Regions from separate parts of the Homo sapiens genome. Here region 2 is linked to region 1. Evidence: fine-mapped expression QTL. Tissue or cell type: liver. Region 1 holds a variant in brackets; the other region holds the start of a gene. All regions are shown on one strand. Distances are between the middles of the regions.

What was found. PIP is the estimated chance that this variant, and not a neighbour inherited with it, causes the effect.
Region 2: TMEM121 starts here. The variant in region 1 is fine-mapped to the expression of TMEM121 in liver (GTEx, PIP above 0.99).

What each region holds. Positions count from the first base shown.
Region 1 is chr14:105,476,661-105,486,680 of GRCh38, reverse strand. CRIP2 (cysteine rich protein 2) reads right to left here. Exons shown (of 8, transcript NM_001312.4): 2 at 8,321-8,415; 3 at 8,174-8,231; 4 at 7,810-7,950; 5 at 7,634-7,702; 6 at 7,462-7,556; 7 at 7,188-7,245; 8 at 6,519-7,095. The coding sequence ends at 7,028. Among named protein-coding and RNA genes, the nearest start is that of CRIP1, 5.2 kb to the left of the region's middle. RefSeq lists enhancers at 4,265-4,584, 5,365-5,474, 5,143-5,864 and a silencer at 5,605-5,754. The variant A/C (reference allele first, on the strand shown) is at 5,993.
Region 2 is chr14:105,521,694-105,531,713 of GRCh38, reverse strand. It overlaps TMEM121 (transmembrane protein 121), which reads right to left and starts at 5,131. Exons shown (of 2, transcript NM_025268.4): 1 at 5,061-5,131; 2 at 1,516-2,992. The coding sequence starts at 2,879. The coding sequence ends at 1,920. RefSeq lists a silencer at 3,264-3,473.

The DNA of each region.
Region 1 (10,020 bases):
GAGGAACCCACTCTGACCTTCCATCCCACGCAGGGTTACGAGGCCGCCCCTGTCAGTCCCCTCACTCCCAAGGGACGTCCCCGCCTCTGCTAGCTCCCCTGACCTCCGCTGCTCTGGGAGGTCCATCGGACCGCAGCGGGAACATCCCCGGGGAATTCAAAAGCGGGGACTCCCAGAGAGGGGAGCTGTAGCTTGAGGACCGATCGGCTGCGGGGGCTGCGGGGGCTGGGGTTTCGGCCGGCAAAAGAGAGTTCAGCCACCCCCAGGCCGGCTCGGAGATGCCCGGACCGGGCGCAGGGAGGGGCCCTTATCTCTGCGGGTAGCGCCCAGGGCGGCCAGAGCGGTCCAAGTACGCTGCAAAGTTGAGGCGGAGGATGGTCCCGGTGCCAGGCGGAGTCTGTCCCGCCTCACCCGCCCCCCAGATTCAGGAGGGCCAAGGGGGCTGCGCTGGCCTCGGGCTTTGGGGTCAGCCCTCTAGCTGACTGGCCAGCCTCAGGAAGGGAGCCCAGGTCACTGTCAGCCCCCTCTCCTGTCACTGAGCAGGGGAGCCCTCTCTCTGCAGGCCCTTCACCTCCATGCTGCATGGAGCTCCCTGGGAGCTCCCACAGCACAAGGGCGGTGCTGCCCTTCCTCCCCACCCACCATCCCTCCTGTCAGCCATGTTAACCAGCGTCCTTATCTCCCCTCGATCTCCACTGGGCCTGTGCTGGCCCTGTCCCCGCTGGGGGCGCTGGAGACCATCCTCCTGGGCCCCAGGAGCCGCTGGCCTACCGCTGTCGGGCCCTGAGCCCTAACTGCACCTGTGATCCCAACCTCACTTTCCCTGAATCCTACCGCACCCCTGTCGGCACCTCGAGGCCTGCACTTAGAGGAAGAGAAGCCGCCTGCCCTGCCCTGTCTGCCACCAGTCCCCAGCTTGGGGAGAGGGCAGGGGCAGCAGGGCTGTAGGACGGCCAAGGCACAGGCGTCTGGCACAGAGGCCACACTCCAGAGAGCCCCACACCAGCACACCCAGCCCAAGGCCACATCCTGCTTGCCCTCCTCCTGGCGCCCCTCTAAGGCCACAGTTCTGTCCCCCGACTGGGGCTAAGTCCTGGGGTCTGATAGGACATTCCACAGGGGCCCATTGGAGCCCTCCTCATCCCCCATTCTGAGACCTCAGAGATAAGGTTTCCAGAGTAGGGGTGCGCTCCTGTCCTGCAAACTTGGAACCCCCACTCTCCAGCCCATGAGCCTTGAAACCCACTCTGAGGTCTGGGCCCACCTGCCATCTCCACTGAGTGTGGGGCATCGTGGGACAAACCTGCAGACAAGCAGAGGGAGAGGCAGAGGCACCAAGAAGGGGGAGAGGCCAGGGGAGCCCGGACAGTATTGGGGAGGCCGGGGGCTCTGTCACTGCACTTTCCCTGGGGCGTGCGCTGCCCCCAAGCCCCAGGGTGCCCAGCACCGCTGTCCACACCCCCACCAGGATGACGTGCTCCGGGTGCAGAGGTGCAGGGCAAGTGCCTGATGCACACGTGTGTGCCTGGTGCCCGTGGACATACCCGTATGGGTGTGTCCATCAGGGGTCTCTGGGGTCCCCGCGAGCATGTGTGTGGTCCCTCTCGCAGTTGTCCGCCCATATTTCTGTCAAGCCTCCTCCCCAGCCCATCCCAGCTCCTGGCCCGGTACCTTGCAGCTCATGTACGGACATTAGCCAGGGCAGATAGGGACAATGACCCAGTCCTTGTCCTCCCCTCTACCCGCCCCCAGGGATGGTCCCTTCCCCCACACTCTGGACTCCAACCCACCCTGCCCATGGAGGAGCCCCTCCTTGAAAACCAGGGTGATGAGTCCATTCCTGGCCTTCCCTGCTGTTGCTTCCTGTCACCATGGTCACGGGTGGGGTGGGGGGCAGGATGCCCTCGCCGTGGGGCCACGCCTTCTGTGTTGGCTCACAGCAGTTTTTCCACTCAACTCAGACACCCACACTCACAGATACACACAGACACATGCACAGATACACACGCACACCCTCACTGACACAGACATAACACAGAGACACACACACAGTCACATACACACGATCCCTGGAACCCTTCCTAAACTTCAGCCACAGACTGACATGCCCCTCAGACCCCCTTTCTCCTGTGCTCCCCATCTACCCTGTGCTCTGGGGGTGGGGACCCCTCATCAGCTGCAGGACCCCAGCTTCCAGCTCCTTTCTCCACCCACACTCCGTGTTCAGGCCATCCCACCCCCAACGCCCACCTCCATCTGAGCAGGTCAGGGTCCTGCCGGCTTCCGGGACACACTGCCCCCGACCAGCCCCAGCCCAGTCACTAGGCCTCAGGCTTTGTCAGCTCTCACCTGGCCGGGGATGCACCTAGGACAGGGCACTGACCTCGTCCATGGGGCCAGCCTGACTCAGGCCCACTGGGCTGGCTGGAAACCCCAGCCCCTGTACCTCTCAGCCCACTCTGCAGGGTGCTGGTGGCATTTGTTTCAGGAACAAACAGAGGACAGAGTGGTCGGGGCAGGGACTCGGAGCTCCGCAGCTGCTCGCCCCAGGCTGCCTCTATGCCCAGAACATTCCACCCTGCACCTGGACAGCAAGAGGGCCCTAGACCCGGGGGTGGCGGGGGCTGCTGCAGTGTTCCGGGTGCATCTTGGAGGCCGCCTCTGTCTGCTCAGCCCGCCCTCTGCACACATCCCTGCGCCCTGGCCTGCTCCTGCTGGCCCTCTGGCTGAAGCCCACAGGGGCTGGGGTGCGGCAGCCTGCAGCCAGGCCTGGGCTCCAGGAACCAGGGTAACCCAGGAGGCAGGGCTGGGCCCCACTGTCCCTGAGGAATCCCACCGTCCACCCCTCTAGGAACATTTTGCTCCTCTGGGCCCACAGCCCCTTCCTCTGCAGACTCAGCTTGGGGACTTGCCTTGAGATGCCCCTCCTTGTCCTTGGAGCCCTCCCCACCACCTCCCCTTGCCCCATGCCCAGGCTGAGAGTGTGGGCAGGTGTGAGGTGCCCTCCCGGGGCTGCAGGCCAGCCAGGCCTGTCCTGGATGCTCTGCAACCAGGTGCCCTGCACTGCCAACATGCATGCCAGGACAGCGCGGAGCCGGCCACGCCCAGCTCAGGCCTCCCCAGGGCCCACCTCCCTGCCCCTCCCTCTCGGCCCAGCTGAGTCTCAGACACTCCCAAGTTCCCAGGGTCTATTTTCAGCTGCTTGTCTCCCGGGACCCCCTGTCTGGCCTGTGGTCTGGCCCCGGTTGGCCGTGCTGGGCTCAGTGGCCATTCCTGCCCTGGGCAGACCTGGCATGGGGCTGGCATGGGACAGGCTTACCAGACAGGCACCTCCTGTCCTCCAGGCCTCACCTCCAGCCCCGAGCAGGTGGGAAGGCTGCGCAGTTCCTCCTCTCCCAGAGCAGACGTGGCAAGGTGTGGAAAGAGGGAAGAAGGGGGCTCCCTCAGCCAGCCCTGCCCCCAGCGGGGCTGCACCCCTGCCTGGCTTCCACAGACTGGCCAGATGGGGTGCCCCTGACCTCCCTCCCCTCTCTTGAGGCTGGGCCTAGTACCCAGCATCCTACAGCCATAGCCCAGGAATTCCAGAGGCTGGAATTCCAGCCTCCCCGCCTGGCAGCTGGACCCCACATCCCCACCGGAAGCCCATCAGGCGCTGGGAAAAGTGCTGCCCATACCTGGCCGTCCTGGTCCTCCAGCCTGCCCTTGCCTGTGCCCAGCCCTCCACGGTCCAGAGCTAGGGGCCCACGGCACTGGGTGATTTCCTCACATCCACCTCTCAGGCTACCGCCGGCCCCCAATAAGCTGGACCCAGGGCCGGGAGGGAGGTGTGCCCCACCAAGTCCTGTGGAGGGTCAGGGTCAGGGGCGCTAGTCCCAGCTGTGTGGAGTCCGAAGGGGTCCAGGAATTAGGGAAGACCCTGGGAGCAGGGGTACCCAGGGCCGATGCTGCGGTCACTGGCTGGGCAGGGCCTGGAGGAAGGGTGCTGGGGGTCCCGGGCAGGGGCCAGAAGAAGTGGAGACAGGGGTAGCTGCAGGCTGAGCTGGCCCCACAAAGATGCCTGGCTGGGGGCACCAGTGAGGGCCCCACCAGCCCAGGTTGGAGTGGGGGATACCTTGGAGGGACCTGGCCAGGAGACACGGGAAGACTGGACAGTGGGGGTACAGACGGGGAGCGGCACAGCTCGGTTCAACAGAGCGCCGGGGTGTGAGCTTAGCCCCATGGGGCACCAGGGCCTTGTGGATCCCTGGACTTGGTTCCCAGGGGTTCTGAAGGGGAGGGATGGAGCAGATAGCATTTCAGAGCCGCCTCACTGGCCAGGCATAGGTCCAAGTAGAAGAGAGTGAAGGTTGAGGGCAGAGCAGCCCCCAAGGCAGGGACAGAGAAGCAGGCACGCCCAAAGGCAGAAGAGCCCATTCCAGATTCCCCTCCCTTTTAGGGGATATCTGGGTCTGTGGGCACCCAAGGGAGCACCTGGCTGGCAGGCGGCTGGGAGGGCATAGCTTCCTGGAGCTGGAGACACCAAGCGAGCCCTGTTAGTGCCGTGGGCACCCAGCCAACCCCAGCAACACCGCCTAGCGACGCAGTCCAGACAAACAGTAGCAACAACCGCCCCGGTTTCCATGACAATGACTTGGAAACAAACACGGCAGGCAGGCGTCATCCTCAAACCGGCCCCGCAGGAAATGGTCCTGCCCCAGCCAGACCTGGGGTCGGGGGTGCTGCTGTCCCTGGCGGGGTCAGGGGCTGATCTCTGGAGGAGACCCCTTACCCACATCATCCCCGCAACCGACCCTGGAAGGTCTTCTGGCACACAAATCCCCCACCGCCGCCCAGGTTTTAGAGAAGGGCACACCACCCACCACTCTCCTCACGACATAGTTTCCACTGGAGGCTCCCAAGGGAGGGGGGTCCAGCTGAGCCCTCCAGTCCCCCCCCCGCCCCCCGCCCCGCCAAGCTGAAAGCAGGAATTTCCCATGCAACCCTGGGAGCCCGCAGCAAGGGCGGAGACGGGCACTCCGGAAATTCTCAGTTCTCCCGAAACAACCCCCCAACACACACAAGGAAGCCTGGGCCTGGCAGGAGGGGATGAGAAGGGGAACCATCCCAGCCTCTCCTGTGAGCAGGGGTCTGGAACCTGCCTGATCCTCCCCTCTGCCTGGGGTTGGGGACTGGCCGTCCCTTCCGCAACGTCAGGCCCCGGGGGTTTTGGCTGAATTCCAGGTGGGAGGAGACCGCACTGGGTGCCTGGCTGGAGGGCAGCTGTGGTACGGCTGGACCCCGGAGCCAGCCCAGGCCCCGCCAGGACATGGATGGCTGCTCTCGGGACAATGGGCTCAGCATCCAGGCTCAGCTCCGTCTGAGCCCATGGGCTGGAGGGTGGCCAGGCAGGGAGCTGTGCCAACGGCTGGGAGCAGGGAAGAGGCGTAAAGCCCCGGCCACCCTGTAGCACTGGGGACAGGGGCCTGGAGGTGGCCAGGTCTGAGTGCCCCTCACTGAAGGAAGGGCCAAGGCAACTTCGGTGTGGTGCCAGGAGCAGAGGAGCATAAACCAAGGTGGGAAGTCCAGATGGCGCCAGGACAGGGCTCAGCCACTGGGGAAGGTCTCCACGTTTCTGCTCTGTGCTGCCAGAATGGGACAGTGCGCCCTCTAGTGGGCACCCGAGGAGTGGCGCACAGCAAAGGCGGGGCGCGGGGGAGGGGAGAGCTCCTTGGAGCCGCCAGCGCCCCTGGCTGAAAGGGCAGAGCCTGGACCATGAAGACGCCAGGGGCGAGTCGGTCATCACTAAAACCTTCACCAGAACACTTGGGCAGGGATTCTGTCCCTGGGCCACACCCAAGGCAGGCCTGTCCACAAAAGCCTGTCCATCACCCTATGGACAAAAGCTGGAAACAGCCACGCTGAGCCTCTCCAGTCCTTGCTCTGACCAGAGCCCCCAAACCCTCCTGCGCATCCCAGTCCAGTCTGGGGCTGCCAGAGACCTCTGTCCCACCCG[A/C]CCTTCGCCGGCTTCCCCATTCTCTGCCCAGGACCCCTCCTCTGGTCCCCGGCCCCCTTCCCTCCTCAGCCACACTCTGCTCTCAGGGCGGACCCCTCCTGCGCTTGCCAGGGTCCACACACCCAGGCAGCTCCGGGTTCTCAGGCCTGCTGTTGGTATTTTCAGGGTTCTAGGTTCAACTTTTCTCCAAGGCTCTGTCCTCCATGGACCCCACCCTCACCTGACCCTGGCCAGGACCCTGGCCCCGGAATGCCTCCCACCTTCCTTACCTCCCCACAGCCTGGCGTTCTTACTGCCTCCCCATCTGGGTGGGCACCACCACCCAAACCGGAGACCACGCTCCCCGCCCCCATCCCTCCCTCCTGCTCAGAAACATCCCAGGGCCCCACCTCCCACTATGACCCCCAGGAGAAGAGCCCACCCCCACTAGCAGCCAGGCCCAGGGGTGTTGGCTGGGAGCACGCATGGACCGGAGAAAGGGACCCTGGTCTGGGATTTGCATCCATCCCACAAGCAGAGACAATCCTGCAATCCTCAAACCGTTTATTGACAGCACAAGGCTCAACAGCAGGTGAGCCACGTGAGGGTGGCGAGCGCTTGCGAGGCAGTGTGGGCACCAGGCAGGGGATCCCGGAGGGAAGCCCTCTGCCAGGGACATGGTGAGGGCGTGGCCATCACCCACGAAGGGAGCATAAATAACACTGGCAGGTGGGTGGGCAGCAGGAGAGGGAGAGCGGACAGCGCCACGGGGACACGCAGGGTCGGCGGGAAAATGCTGGGACAGGGTCACACGGGGATTCGGACACGCAGACACAGAAGGGATCATGGGACGCCCAGAGGATGCCAGAGGGGGCAGACACACCAGAGACTCGGGGATGGGCATGGTGCTCTGCCCGTGGCTGCCCCTCCTCCAATACTCGCCCTGGGCTTGCAGGCAGGACTGGGCGGCTGAGCACTCTCCCAGCAGAGCCAAGCAGGGGGGCCCCTGCAGGGTCTGGGGCGCAGGTGAGCCCACATCATGAGAGCCGCTGTAGCCTAGGGCTGGACCTTGCCTTCGGGGTCCCGGTCATAGATGTAGCTGCCCACCGCACCGGTGTTCACTCCTGTGGAGGGAGGCCGCTGGGGTGGGTCGGGGGAACAGTGGAGGGAAGGGGAGGGCAGGGAAGACATCGTGGACCACCCTGGCTACACTCACCCTTGGGTCCGAAGAGGATTCCATAGCAGGGCTTGTGGCAGTAGGGCTGGCCGTCGTGCTGGGGCAGAAGGTGGGTGCTGAGGGAGGAGTCCACAGACTCCCCCGACCCATCACCTGGAGGCTTCCAGAACGTGCAGGCCGGCTCGCCGTGGGGGAGAGGGCAGCGCAGCTCCCAGAAGCACCACCCCCCATCCCCTCTAGGCGCGCCTCTCACCCTCATCCCCCCGACCCCGCGCCCCTGCCCGGCCCCCAAGCCCCGTTGCACTCCCCTCACCTCCGCGTGCCCGCCGGGGGTCAGTGTCTTCCCGCAGCGCTCGCAGCGCAGGCAGGGCCGGTGCCAATCCTTGCCCAGAGACGTCACCTTCTCAGCTGGAAAGGGGGAGGAGTGAGGCCGAGCCCCGGGGCGGGGGCGGGGGCGGGGGTCCGGGGCCCGGGCGCGCACTCACCGAAGTACACCTTCTTGCTGCAGCGCGGGCACGTGTTGGGCTCCCCGGTGAAAGTGGTGACACTGGAGGCTGTGGGGCGCACGAGTCAGGGCGGGGCGGGGCCGGGGGTGCCCACAACCCCCAGCCCCAGCCCGCGCGTGCCCACAACCCCCAGCCCCAGCCCGCGCCCAGCCCACCTCTGCTGGGCCCCTTCGGGGGGCCGCTCGCCTTCCGCTCCTCTGCTCGGGCCGCGGGGACCTCGATGGGGCCGGTGACCTGCGGCCCCTCCGCCAGGGGCTTCTCGTAGATGTAGGAGCCCGCGCCCCCGATGTTCACGCCTGCGGGTGGGGGTACGTGGGGCGGGGGTACGTGGGGTGGGGGCCGCGGCCACCGGGCATCTCAGAAAACGGCCCGCTGGGGACTGGGGGGCACTAGGCTTTCCAGGGTGGCAGGGACTCTGGGCGGGGATCCACGGCGGCCGGGACCCCCAGCCCTCCCCAGCGCCAGCGCCACGCCCCTCCCAGCAGGTCCCAGGGCAGGCCGAGGGCAGCCGGAGCTCACCTTTGGGTCCGAACAGGGTGGCGTAGCACGGCTTGTGGCAGAACGGCTTCCCGTCATGCTGCGCAGAGGGGCGCGGGTCAGGACCCTGCCTGAGGGTGGCGGGAGTCGCGACCCCCGCCCCCGCCCGCGCCGCGCAGTGGGGCTCACCTCGGCGTGGCCCCCGGGCGTCAGCGTCTTGCTGCAGCGCTCGCACTTGAGGCAGAACTTGTGCCAGTCCTTCCCCAGGGAGCTCACCTTCTCGGCTGAGCGGGAGGGGCGGCAGGGGGGTCAGGGCCGGGGCGCGCCCCGCACCCCCTCCGCCCCCACCTGGCAGCCACCACCCCCACGCGCTCCGGGGGTCCCCACTTTCAGGAGGTCTCCCAGGCGCCTTCCTTCCACCTGGCGGGCCCTGCCCCTCCTTCTGAGACCCGGAGGAGCCCGTCGCCCCCAGGCCCTGTTCTCCCTCTGGGTCTCAGCGCCCCCAGCCCTGGAACCCCGCTAGAGCCGCCTTTGAGAAGGGGCCCGGGGCTGCCCTGTTAGTCCCCTCAGTGCCTGCGGTGAAGGGGCCTGTGCTCGAGCCTGCCCGCGCTCCAACACCTGCCCGCGCTCCAACACCTGCCCGCGCTCCAACACCTGCCCGCGCTCCAACACCTGCCCGCGCTCCAACACCTGCCTCCCGGACACCCGCCTCACACCCGCCTCCCCCACACGCCCGCCTCCCCCCACAAATCTGCCTCCTCCCACACACCTTCCTCTCACACACACACCCGCCTCCCCCACACGCCCGCCTCCACACACCCGCTTCCCCCCACACACACCCGCTTCCTCAGACACACACCCGCTTCCCCCCACACACCTGCCTCCCCCCACACATATGCATCTCCCCCACCTGTCATTCCCTCAAACACTTCTCTTACACTCACACACCTGCCTCTGCAGTGCACCTGCTTCAACACATGCTGCTCTCCCTCTCACACCTGCCTCGCACTGACACGCCCCTGATCCCCACCAACTGGGCCCTGATGGGGCTGGCAGCACCCCGCTGCTGAGTCAAAGGTGCAGCCCCAGAACCTCCAGCTCCCTCATGGGAAGGCCAGGCCCCGTCCCCGTGGGTCCTCCAGGCGGGACCCTCATCTGTCTGTGGATTCCTCGTCCTAAACCCTGAGCTCTCCCCCCGCCGTAATGCCCCTGGCTGCCACTGGCATGGAAGATCTGAGGGCAGCTGCTGAGGGTCCGGGACCCTCTGCCACTGCCTCCCACCCCCACACTGGGGCTACTGGACTGCTTCCCAGTGGATGGAAGCAGGGGCCTCCCTAGGGAGCCAGGCAGGAAGAGGTGGGGAGGGGCAGGAAGGGCCCAGCAGAGCCGGAATTCTGAAGGGAAGGGGACAAGCTGCAGGCCCTGGGGGGAGGGAGCATGCAGGCTGGGCCCACCCTGCCCGGCAGAATCTGGCCAAGCCCCTCAGGTGGCCGAGGACCAGTGGCTCTCCCAGCTCCCTTTCTCAGCAAGTGGCCCAGCCCCCTTTGTCTGGCAGATATCGGGGAGGGGCATCTGGCTAGGGCGAAGCCCACTCTGAGAGGCCCAAGGGTGCTGCTCCTGGCAGTGAGATGGGATCCCCCAGGTGGCCTACTAGGTAGAGGGCTGTGAATACTGGCTCTCCGTGGCCCTGGTACAACCCTCTGGGCATGGCCAGGGCCAGCCTCCAGGACACCAGCCCAACCACAAGGCTGCACCAGCTTAGAGCCCTCTGACCAGAACCACTCCACTCAAGGAAGCTGGGACACACCAGGGCAGGCAGGGGCTGGCTGCACGGTGGGCAGGCGTGTCCCAGCAGCAGCAAGGAAGTCTCGGTGGCTATCGGCCGTGGC
Region 2 (10,020 bases), 45 kb before region 1:
TCACCCAGGAGACCCTTAAGGCAGGATGGGGCCGGCACTGGCTTCAGCCAGGGGAGGAAACAGGCTCCAGCCCAGACAGGCAGAATGAAGCTCGCCCCTCACCCACTACCCCCCACTCCAGACCACTCCCTCCCAAGAAGGCCCAGGTCCTCCCACTGGCCCACGCAACTCCCACAGCCCCTCTTCTCTCTCCATGCCAGGCCTGGGGCCTTTCCACGGCTGCTCATCACCGCCCCTCCCCGGCCCCCCAGCCCCCTTGATCCTGCAGACCTTCCACTTCCCAACACGATCATTAGTGGCCTGGGCACAGCCCAGAGCAGGGCGCCTCTGACCTCCTACCCAGGCCAGCGCCCCGTGCCCACCCACGGCGCTCGGCGCTTGGAGGGGCTGCTGGGGATATGATCGGAGGCCGGGGCCAAGGCACGGTTTTAGAGGTGGGCAGAGCGCCGGCCACGTCTGACCTGGACAGCGAGGTAGTCCCCCTGCCCGGGACCCTGAGGACAGTGGTCCCGAGGCCAGCTGCCTGGAAGGCAGGCGACTTTCAAAGGCCAGACCCCAGGTGGCCTGGAGCTGGGGTATGAGGACTGTGTGGGGTCGGGGTGCGGCTGGGGCTGCCACCAGCCACGCCCTTAACTGCTGCAGTTGTTGGGAAATGCACTTGGGGAGGACCCCACTTGAGCAGCCAGCTCCACTCCCCTCGATGGTTTTAGCCCTGGCTGGCTAAACCTTGCCACCTTTGGGCCGTGGAAATGCGGGAAGCGAAGGCCCAGGCAGTGAACTGTGCCACATGAGATGTGTGTGACCATCACCCGCTCATGGAGCGGGCATCCTCAAACAATTCTTTTAGCAGCCTCATAAAGGGCCCCTCCCCAGATGCTACGGACCTTCCCAGGCCAGGTGGATACCCAGGGCCACATCACAGGTACAGGGTCCCAGGTGGAAGGCAGGTGAGAGACCCCTTGCAGATGGGCTTCAGGGCGGGTGCTGCCTGTGCCAGGGGCTGCCAGCTCCCGTGCTGGGGCAAGGCCAGGATGGTAAGGTGGGGCCAGGCTCCGTGCTGCTCCTGGGGCTGCGACCTGGGGCTGCCACATCAACTTGGGAACACCCTGATTCCATCTGGCTGTGGCTGTCCTGGGCTGGAGGAGCCCACAGGGAAGGTAGGTTCCACGGTGGGGGAGAAGGAAACCAGGGATGTGGGAGACACTGTCATGCCTGAGGTTGAGGGGAGCAGGGGCCAGGACACCTACGGTGCTGGGGGAAGATGGGGGTCAAGGTATCCCAGGAAGATAATTGGGAACACCGAAGCTGGAGTGGAGGAGCTGTCCCTGGGACAGAGCGGCAGTGGCCCCCAGGAGCTCCTGAGAGCCCCGGAGGAAGTGGAGCGGCCCAGCCTCACCAGCATCCGGCACTTGGACGCCACCATCTCCCCCGCCCTCCACACACCCCTCCTGGCTCCCCGCCTCCCAGCCTGGCTGGTAAACACAGGGACACAGGAACAGGCAAAGCAGTGCGGCCTTGGATACAAAACTGTAAACACGAGTCTTTAAAATGACAGAGGCCTCCTTGGCCCCAAATCTGAGCCAGAGGCCCCCACCGAAGGAGCAGATCTCCGCCCACACTGCCCTCCCTTCCAACCCGGGCGGCCCAGCAGGCAGGGGCCGGATCACCTCTGCTCTGCTCCGGCCCAGGCCTCCCAAACAGACCCACGCGCTGGGGCGGGCTGGTGGAGCGGGGGCTGAGGATCCGCGGTCCGAGAGATTCCTGAGATGAAGAAGCGGCCGCGGGACCCCAGGCACGGGCACTCGAGGCACCTGTCCCTAGGGGAGCCCGCCCCCACCCCATCCCATGCAAACCGCGCGCCCCAAGCCAACCCGGTGTCTCTGCGCCCCAGGGGCGTGTCGGGGGCCGCGCGGGCCCTGTCACGTGTCCAGGGGGTCACGCGTGGGCGAGGACATGTGGGGGCGCCCAGGCGGGCCGTGCAGCGGCGGCGGCGGCGGCGGCACCGAGTTGCGCTGCGGGGGTGGCGGCTGCAGCTCCAGTGATAGCGCAGGCGGCGGGAAGTCGCGCACCTGGCGGCGGTACTCCAGGAAGGTGCAGGCCTTGGTGGCGAGCGCCACCACGTTTTTGCCGACGAAGATGGCCGAGACACGGCTGTCCCGGAACAGCGCCATGTTGGCGGCGCGCGCCAGCACGGCCACCACATTGACGGTGGCGAGGCTGAGCACCGGGTACAGCATCATCTTCTGCGGCGCTATGTGCTCGCCCTGCATGCTGACCTCGCTGAGCGCCACGCACGGCAGCACCAGCAGCAGCATGTAGCAGTAGAAGAAGGTGAGGCCCTCGGCCCACAGCGGCAGCCCGGAGCGCGGCGGCTCCCACAGGCTGGCCTGCATGTCCAGCAGGTCCAGCAGGTCCAGCGCCACCCAAAACAGGCGGCCGCGCAGGTCCTCGCGCTTGCGGAAGGTGCGCACGTACTCCATGCGGTCCAGCGCCACGAGCAGCAGGAACAGGCCGGGCACACACACAGACAGCAGCAGCGTCAGCGCCTTGCGCGCCACGGGGTCCGCCGCGCCGCGCCGCGCCGCCTTGTAGTTCTGGAAGATGAAGTAGAGCTTGATCTCCAGCACGAAGATGTAAAGGAACCACAGGATCATGGCGTAGCCGCGCTTGGCCGTGCGCACCTCGGCGCCCACCCACACGGCCACGTAGCGCAGCACCAGCAGGAAGCACACGTCGCCCACCAGCACGATGATGCACACGCCGATCTTGCGCGGGCCCTGGTTCTGCTCCACCAGGTACGCGTCCATGACGGCCATGCTGCCCATGATCACCAGCGTGGTCAGGCACACGTGGCGCCGGTCCGGGGGCGGCAGCACCATGGTCGGCCGCCGGGCCCCGGCCTGGGCGCGCGCGGCCCCCACGCCTGGCGGGACGAGGCCCTGCGGCGCTCAGCCAGCGGGCATGGCGCGACACGGCCCGGCGAGCTCGAAACCTGGGGAGACCGGAGGAGACAAGATCAGGGTGCGGGCTGGAGCGGCCTCCCCCAACACCCCCCGCCCCCCGCACCCCGCGTGCTTCCCACCAGGCGCGGTCTCCGCGCCGGGGCCCCGAGGCATCGCGCACGCCTGCGCCCATGCGCGAACCGGCGGCCGCGAACCACAGCGAGGCCTCCAGAGGGCGCTGCTGCCTCGCCAGAGCACCCGGGCCTCGTTCCCGCCGCCAGGAAGGAAACGGAACGGACGCGTTTTCTGCCCGCCGAGCTCGTTCCCGGAGCCCGGGGGGGTTTGTCACTGCTGGGCCCGCGCCGCCCTCCCTCCTGGCTCCGGCGGCCCGGACCCCACGCCCGCGCTGCTGGCCTCAGGCCGTTTCCGCGGAGTTCCGGGAATACCCTCTCCCCGCCGCCGCACTGGGCAGGGAGGCGGGCCTGCCCCTCCGCTCTTGGAGTACCCAAGGAGGCCTCGGCCCTCCCAGGCTTTCTGATCCCGGACCGAGAGCCACCCAGGTCCCGATGCATCCGTCCCACAAGCCTCTCCGAGCCTCCCCGCCCCTGCCCGGCAGCCCCCACGCCCCTCCTCCCTGCACGGGCAGGCTCGGTCTCCCCTCCTGTCCACCATCCTGGGCGCGTGGCCACTGCCTGCCCTGCTCCCCATGGCTCCGCATTGCCTTGGCGAGGTGTTGTCCCCCACCCTCTGCCCCGGCAGAGCCACCCTGCTTTGCTCCTCTGCGCCAGGGCGATGCCTGTGGCTGCCCTCGAATCTCGGGAAGCCCGTCCACCAAGGCCCGTCGGGCTTCCACAGGCCCCTGCACCTCTGTCACACACCTGGCACTGGTCCTCATGGCCGTGCTGTCGGAGTCCCCGCACCTGGGCCTGTGCACACCTGGGTGACAATGGAGGCCCGCACACCCGCACCCACCCCAAAGTCACTGACAGGCTTACTCCCAGCCAGCCCCTCACCCCCTCCACAGCCCCAGGCCTGGGGCTCCGTTTACTGCCGTGTCTAGACAAAGGCATAAAATTTAATGTCCCCGTGACAGTCGGGCGCTCGGACTGCCCTGGTGACACCGCAGGCCCCACCGATCCGGGAAAGCGTTGAACTCTGCACTCCCACCCCTGCCCCCACCCAGCACCCGCCGCCCAGGATCCCCACAGCCACACACAGGACACCCCCACCCCTCGGAGCTCTGACAGGTCGCGAGGAGGGTGCCTTGAGGGTCCTCAGCCCATGCCCCTGCCTCCAAGCCTCCCCGCGCTCTGGGTCCCACCGGGACACTCACCCGGTTTTCACGTCCACTGGATCTACACGTCTGACCCAGGAAGCCCTCTCTGGGCCCATTCCAGGCCCACCTGGGCCTCCCCTAGCTGCAGCCGCAGCCTGAGAATTTCCTCCCTCTCCGCGCGTGGCGGGGCCAAATAAATAGCGGGGGAGCCACGGCGCCGCTCACCCTTTCCGGCCGTGCCTCCAGCCCCTCCGCCCCACTACGCTGTCGCTCGATCCTCAGTCACTTGGCAGATGCGGGCCGAGGGGCTCTGCGCTGGCGAAGGGACGGACTCCAGCCCCTAGCGGAGCCCCTACCCCGGCAAGCCAGAGCCCGGCCCGGCCACCTCTCCGTAGGGACCTGGCCCCAGGCCCACCTGTCCTGGGTCTCCTGGGCCCCGGCCGAGGCCCCTCCTCCCCCCACGCCCCGCGGCTCAGACCTGGCACAGACTCTGGGGCCTCCAGGCCCTTCACTGCCCGGGCCCCGCAAGGACCCTCGCCCCATAACCACCCCTCGGAGCCCCCGGGAGGAGGGGCGGGAGGGGGCTGCTGTGCTCCCGCCGCGGGCCGGTGCAGAGCTTGGGCCGCTCCCAGCAGGCTGCGTCTCTGCTTGTCCCCCCGAGGCTTCCCCACGCAGGGCCGGGTCCCCGTCACCCCGCCGGCCCCAGGCCTCACCCCTGCCGCATCGGCCCCCGCCCCACCCCACAGTCCCCACGGCCCAGAGGTGCAGGGTCGCCCAGGCCCGCCGCCCCCTCCGCGGACGCAGCCGCGCACCCAGCCAGTCCCGCCCGCGCCCGCGCCTACCCCGCCGCCCGCAGATGCTGCGCCGCTCCCGGGCCCGCCCGCCCAGCCTCTGCCGCCACTGCCGGGGCCGCGCCGGCTCCTCCCGCCGCGCCCCTCCCCCGCCCGCGCGGCACCGCCCCCGACCCAGAGGCCCCGCCCCGCGCCCCTCGGCCCGCGAGCCCCGCCGGACCTGGGGACCTGGGAGCGCGGGGGTGCCGGTGCCCCGCCCCCTCCGCAGCGCCGGTTGCCACGGCGACAGCACCGCGCGGCGGCGCGCAGGACTGGTGGCTCTGGGGAGCGGGGCGCCCTCGCGCACCCCCAGGCGCGGAGTCCCGTCTCCACCCTCCTCACCCACCGCCCAGAATCCCAGGGTCCCGCCCAGTGCCCCCCGCGCCCTGAAACTCCGCTGCCGCCCCCTAGAGCGACCCCACTCAGCCGGACAGGCGCCCACCGGCCCAGGAGCTGACAGGGATGTAGGCGCGGGGCTGGCCTGGCCGCCGGGGCCCTCCGCGCCACCCTCTGTCCTCTTTGGGGAGAAACCCAGCCTTCCCAGGTTTCTTCTCAGGGCAGAGGAAAGGAATGATGAGCGGCCCCCACCTTCTTCTCCAGCCCGTCCAGGAGGCAAGCTAGGGTTTGGGGACTTGGGCTTCATTTTGTCACTGAGGTGGCACTAAGCCCCTCCCCCCACATCCTGTCCATCCCGTGTGAGCCAGAGAAGAACCCGAGGGCACCTTCTGCCTGCCTGCCCTCCTTCCCAGAACTGCTGTGACTTCCCTCTGACATAGGAGGAGACTGAGGGTCAGAGAGGTAAAGGGACACCAGATTTGGTGGAAAGACCAGAATTTGAGGCACCACCCAACTGGTAGTGAACTTCCAGATTCTCTTCCCGTATCCCCGGGCCTGGACTCAACACGGCCTGAAAGCCAGAAGAGGACAGAGAGCTCCAGAAGTTCTCTAGTCCTGGCACAAGGGGAGGAAAGAAAAAGGTCGCCTAATGCTCCCAGGGTGCAGGAGAATGCCCGGGGGGATGTTAGGGTTTGGGAGGATGGGGTTTTTTGGTAGTGGTTGTTTTTTTACTCTTCTCCATTCTCTGATGCCCCAGCCCCTAGGTATCCCACCAAAGCCATGACCAAGGCATAGGGTTTACAAGCACCTAAAACGCTGAGGCAGAAGAGCCTTCCTTTCCAGCCCCAGGAGATGTGGTCCCCTGTCGCTGGAGAGATGGTGGGCAGGGAGAAGCAGTAGAAAGCAATCCATGGGCTGGGCGTGGTGGCTCACACCTGTAATTCCAGCACTTTGGGAGGCCGATGTGGGCGGATTACCTGAGGTCGGGAGTTCGAGACCAGCCTGGCCAACATGGTGAAACCCCCATCTCTACTAAAAATATAAAAATTAGCCGGGCGTGGTGGCACACACCTGTAATCCCAGCTACTCGGGAGGCTGAAGCAGGAGAATTGCTTGAGTCCGGGAGATGGAGGTTGCAGTGAGCCGAGATCTTGCCACTGCACTCCAGCCTGGGCAACAGAGTGAGACTCTGTCTCAAAAAAAAAAAAAAAAAAAAAGCAACCCCAGGAAGTTGTGCAAGCCATACATGATGTACAAGTCTAAACCCTCATTCACATCCCAAAGGCTGAGAACTGAACAAAAGGACAGCCCACTGCCCACGTCCCACACTGGCCACTGGGCAGTGCATACGAAGGACAGATCTGAGTCCCACTGCAAAGGCTTTGAAAACAAAACCGACATGGAAGGCAGGACCCACAGGAGCCTATTTGAACTTGTGGCCTGAAACCAACTAGGTTGATTGCATGATAAAACAAAATGCCAACATTCTCAATGGGATTTAAATAAGACCAGTCTCATAACATAATGTCTAAATGTGCAGGAGACAATCTAAAATTACTCTGCATGTGAAGAATCAGGAAATCCAACCTGCAAGAGAAAAGACAATCAACAGCCGCCAATGCCAACATGACACAAAAACCCTCAACTAATTATCAGCAAATAGAATCAAGCAGCATTAAAAACACACACACACAAATACCCCAACCAAATGGAGGCTATCCCAGAAAGGCAAGGCTGGTTCAACATGTGAAAATAAATCGATGTGATCCACCATATTAGTCTCAAGAAGAAAACCATGTGATCATCTCAATCAATTCAAAGAAAGTATTTGACGGAATTCAACACTCATCCCTGATAAACACTCTCAGCAAACTAGAAAGCAAAGGGAACATGCTTAATCTCATAAAAGGAATCTACAAAAAGCAACAACAAAAACAACAGGCCAGGCATGGTGGCTCACCCCTGCAATCTCAACATTTTGGGAGGCCAGGAGTTCAAGACCAGCCCGGGCAACATGGAGAGATTCCATATCTGTTATTTTTAATTAAAAAAAAAATTAGGCCAGGCACTGTGGCTCATGCCTCTAATACCAGCATTTTGGGAGGCCAAAGTGGGCGGATTGCTTGAGCTTGAGTTCAAGACCAGCCTGGGAAACATGGTGAAACCCTGTCTCTACAAAAAATACAAAACAATCTGGCCGGATGTGGTGGCTCACGCCTGTAATCCCAGCACTTTGGGAGGCCAAGGCAGGCAGATCACCTGAGCTCAGGAGTTCTATGCCAGCCTGGGCAACATGGCGAAACACCATCTCTACTTAAAACACACACACACACACACACACATTAGCAGGGTACAGTGACACACACCTGTAATCCCAGCTACTCAGGAGGCTGAGGCATGAGAATCGCTTGAACTTGGGAGGCAGAGGTTGCAGTGAACTAAGATCGCACCACTGCACTCCAGTGTGGGCAACAGAGGAAGACCCTGTCCAAAAAAGAAAAAAAAAAAAAAAAAAAACCTCTGCATCTAATGTGATACTTAATAATGAAGGACTAAATGCTGAGCCCTAAGATCAGGAACAAGGTAAAGATGTCCACTCTATTCACTCCTGTTCCACAGTGTACTGGCAGTCCTAACCCATGCAATAAAACCAGAAAAATAAAAGGCATACAGATTAGAAAGGAAGAAATAAAGATGTCCCTATCCATAAATAACATAAAAGTCTATGTCGAAAATCCCAAGAATTTTACCAACAAAAAAGTCAGAATACTAATAAGTGAGTTTTGCAAGGTTGCAGGATGAAAACACAGAACTCAGTCCTGTTTCTATATATTAGCAATGAACAATTGAAAACCAAAATTTTTAAAAGCAATGCTATTTAAAATGGTCCCCCAGTAAATTTATTCGTTTGGTATTAATCTAACAAGACTGGTACAGGATTTGTATACTGAAAACTACCAAATGCTGATAAAAGAAATCAAAGAAGGCCTAAATATGTGAGAGGCATGCTGTGTTCCTGAATTAGAACAAATATAGTTAAGATACCAATTCTCTCCAAAACGACTACGGATTTAATGCAATTTCAATTAAAATTCCTGTCGGAAATTTTATAGGTATAGAAAACCTTGTTCTGAAATGTATATAGAAATGAAAAGCAACTAGTTGCCAAAATAATTCTGAAAAAGAAGGGAAAAAGTTGGAGGGTTCTCACGAATGGATGTTTTTGTTGTTGTTGTTTTTGTTTTTTTGGGTTTTTTTTTTTTTTGAGACTGAGTCTCGCTCTGTAGCCCAGGCTGGAGTGCAGTGGCATGATCTTGGCTCACTGGAAGCTCTGCCTCCTGGGTTCATGCCATTCTCCTGCCTCAGCCTCCCGAGTAGCTGGGACTACAGGCGGCCGCCACCACGCCCGGCTAATTTTTTGTATTTTTAGTAGAGACGGAGTTTCACTGTGTTAGCCAAGATGATCTCGATCTCCTGACCTCGTGATCCACCCACCTCAGCCTCCCAAAGTGCTGGGATTACAGGTGTGAGCCACCGTGCCCAGCCATCACTAATGGATGTTAACTCACCATAAAGCTAAAGCAATTGAGACAGGCTGAATTGGCAGAGGGTCAGCCGACAGATCAATGGAACAAGTGCACCCACACAAGCATGGCCATTGATTCTTTAACAGATTTATTGAAATATAATTCAAATACCATAAAATTCATCCATTTAAAGGGTACAATTCAGGCCAGGCGCAGTGGCTCACACTTGTAATCCCAGCACCTTGGGAGGCCGAGGCAGGTGATCACCTGAGGTCAGGAGTTCAAGACCAGCCTGGCCAACACGGTGAAACCTCACCTCTACTAAAAACACACACACACACACACACAAAAATTAGCCAGGCGTGATGACCCACGCCTGTAGTCCCAGCTACTTGGGAGGCTAAGGCAAGAGAATCGCTTGAACCCAGGAGACGGAGGTTGCAGTGAGCCGAGATCATGCCACTGCACGCCAGCCTGGGCAACAGAGCAAGACTCTGTCTCAAAATAAATAAATAAATAAATAAAGTGTACAATTCAGCCAGGCACAGTGGCTCACTCCTGTAATCCCAGCGCTTTGGGAGGCCAGGCAGGAGAACTGCTTGATCCCAAGAGTTCGATGCCAACCTAGGTAACATAGCAATACCTCGTCTCTACAAAAAACACAAAGGGTAGGTGGGCATGGTGGCGCATGCCTGTAGTCACAGCTATTTGGGGGGCTGAGGTGGGAGGATCGCTTGAACCTGGGAGGTTGAGGCTACAGTGAGCCGTGGGAGCTGGGGCAACAGAGTGAGACTCTGTCTCCAAAAGCAAAAGTGTACAGTCTGGGCACAGTGGCTCACGCCTGTGATCCCAGCACTTTGGGAGTCCAAGGAGGGCAGATGACTTGAGGTCAGGAGTTCGAGATCAGCCTGGCCAGCATGGTGAAACCTCGTCTCTACTAAAATACAAAAATTAGCTGGGCGTGGTGGCGCACACTTGTAATCCCAGCTGCTTGGGAGGCTGAGGCAGAAGGAGCCTAGCTTGAACCCAGGAGGCGGAGGTTGTAGTGAGCCGAGATGGCACCACTGCACTCCAGCCTGGGTGACAGAGCAAGATAAGAAGGAGAGAGA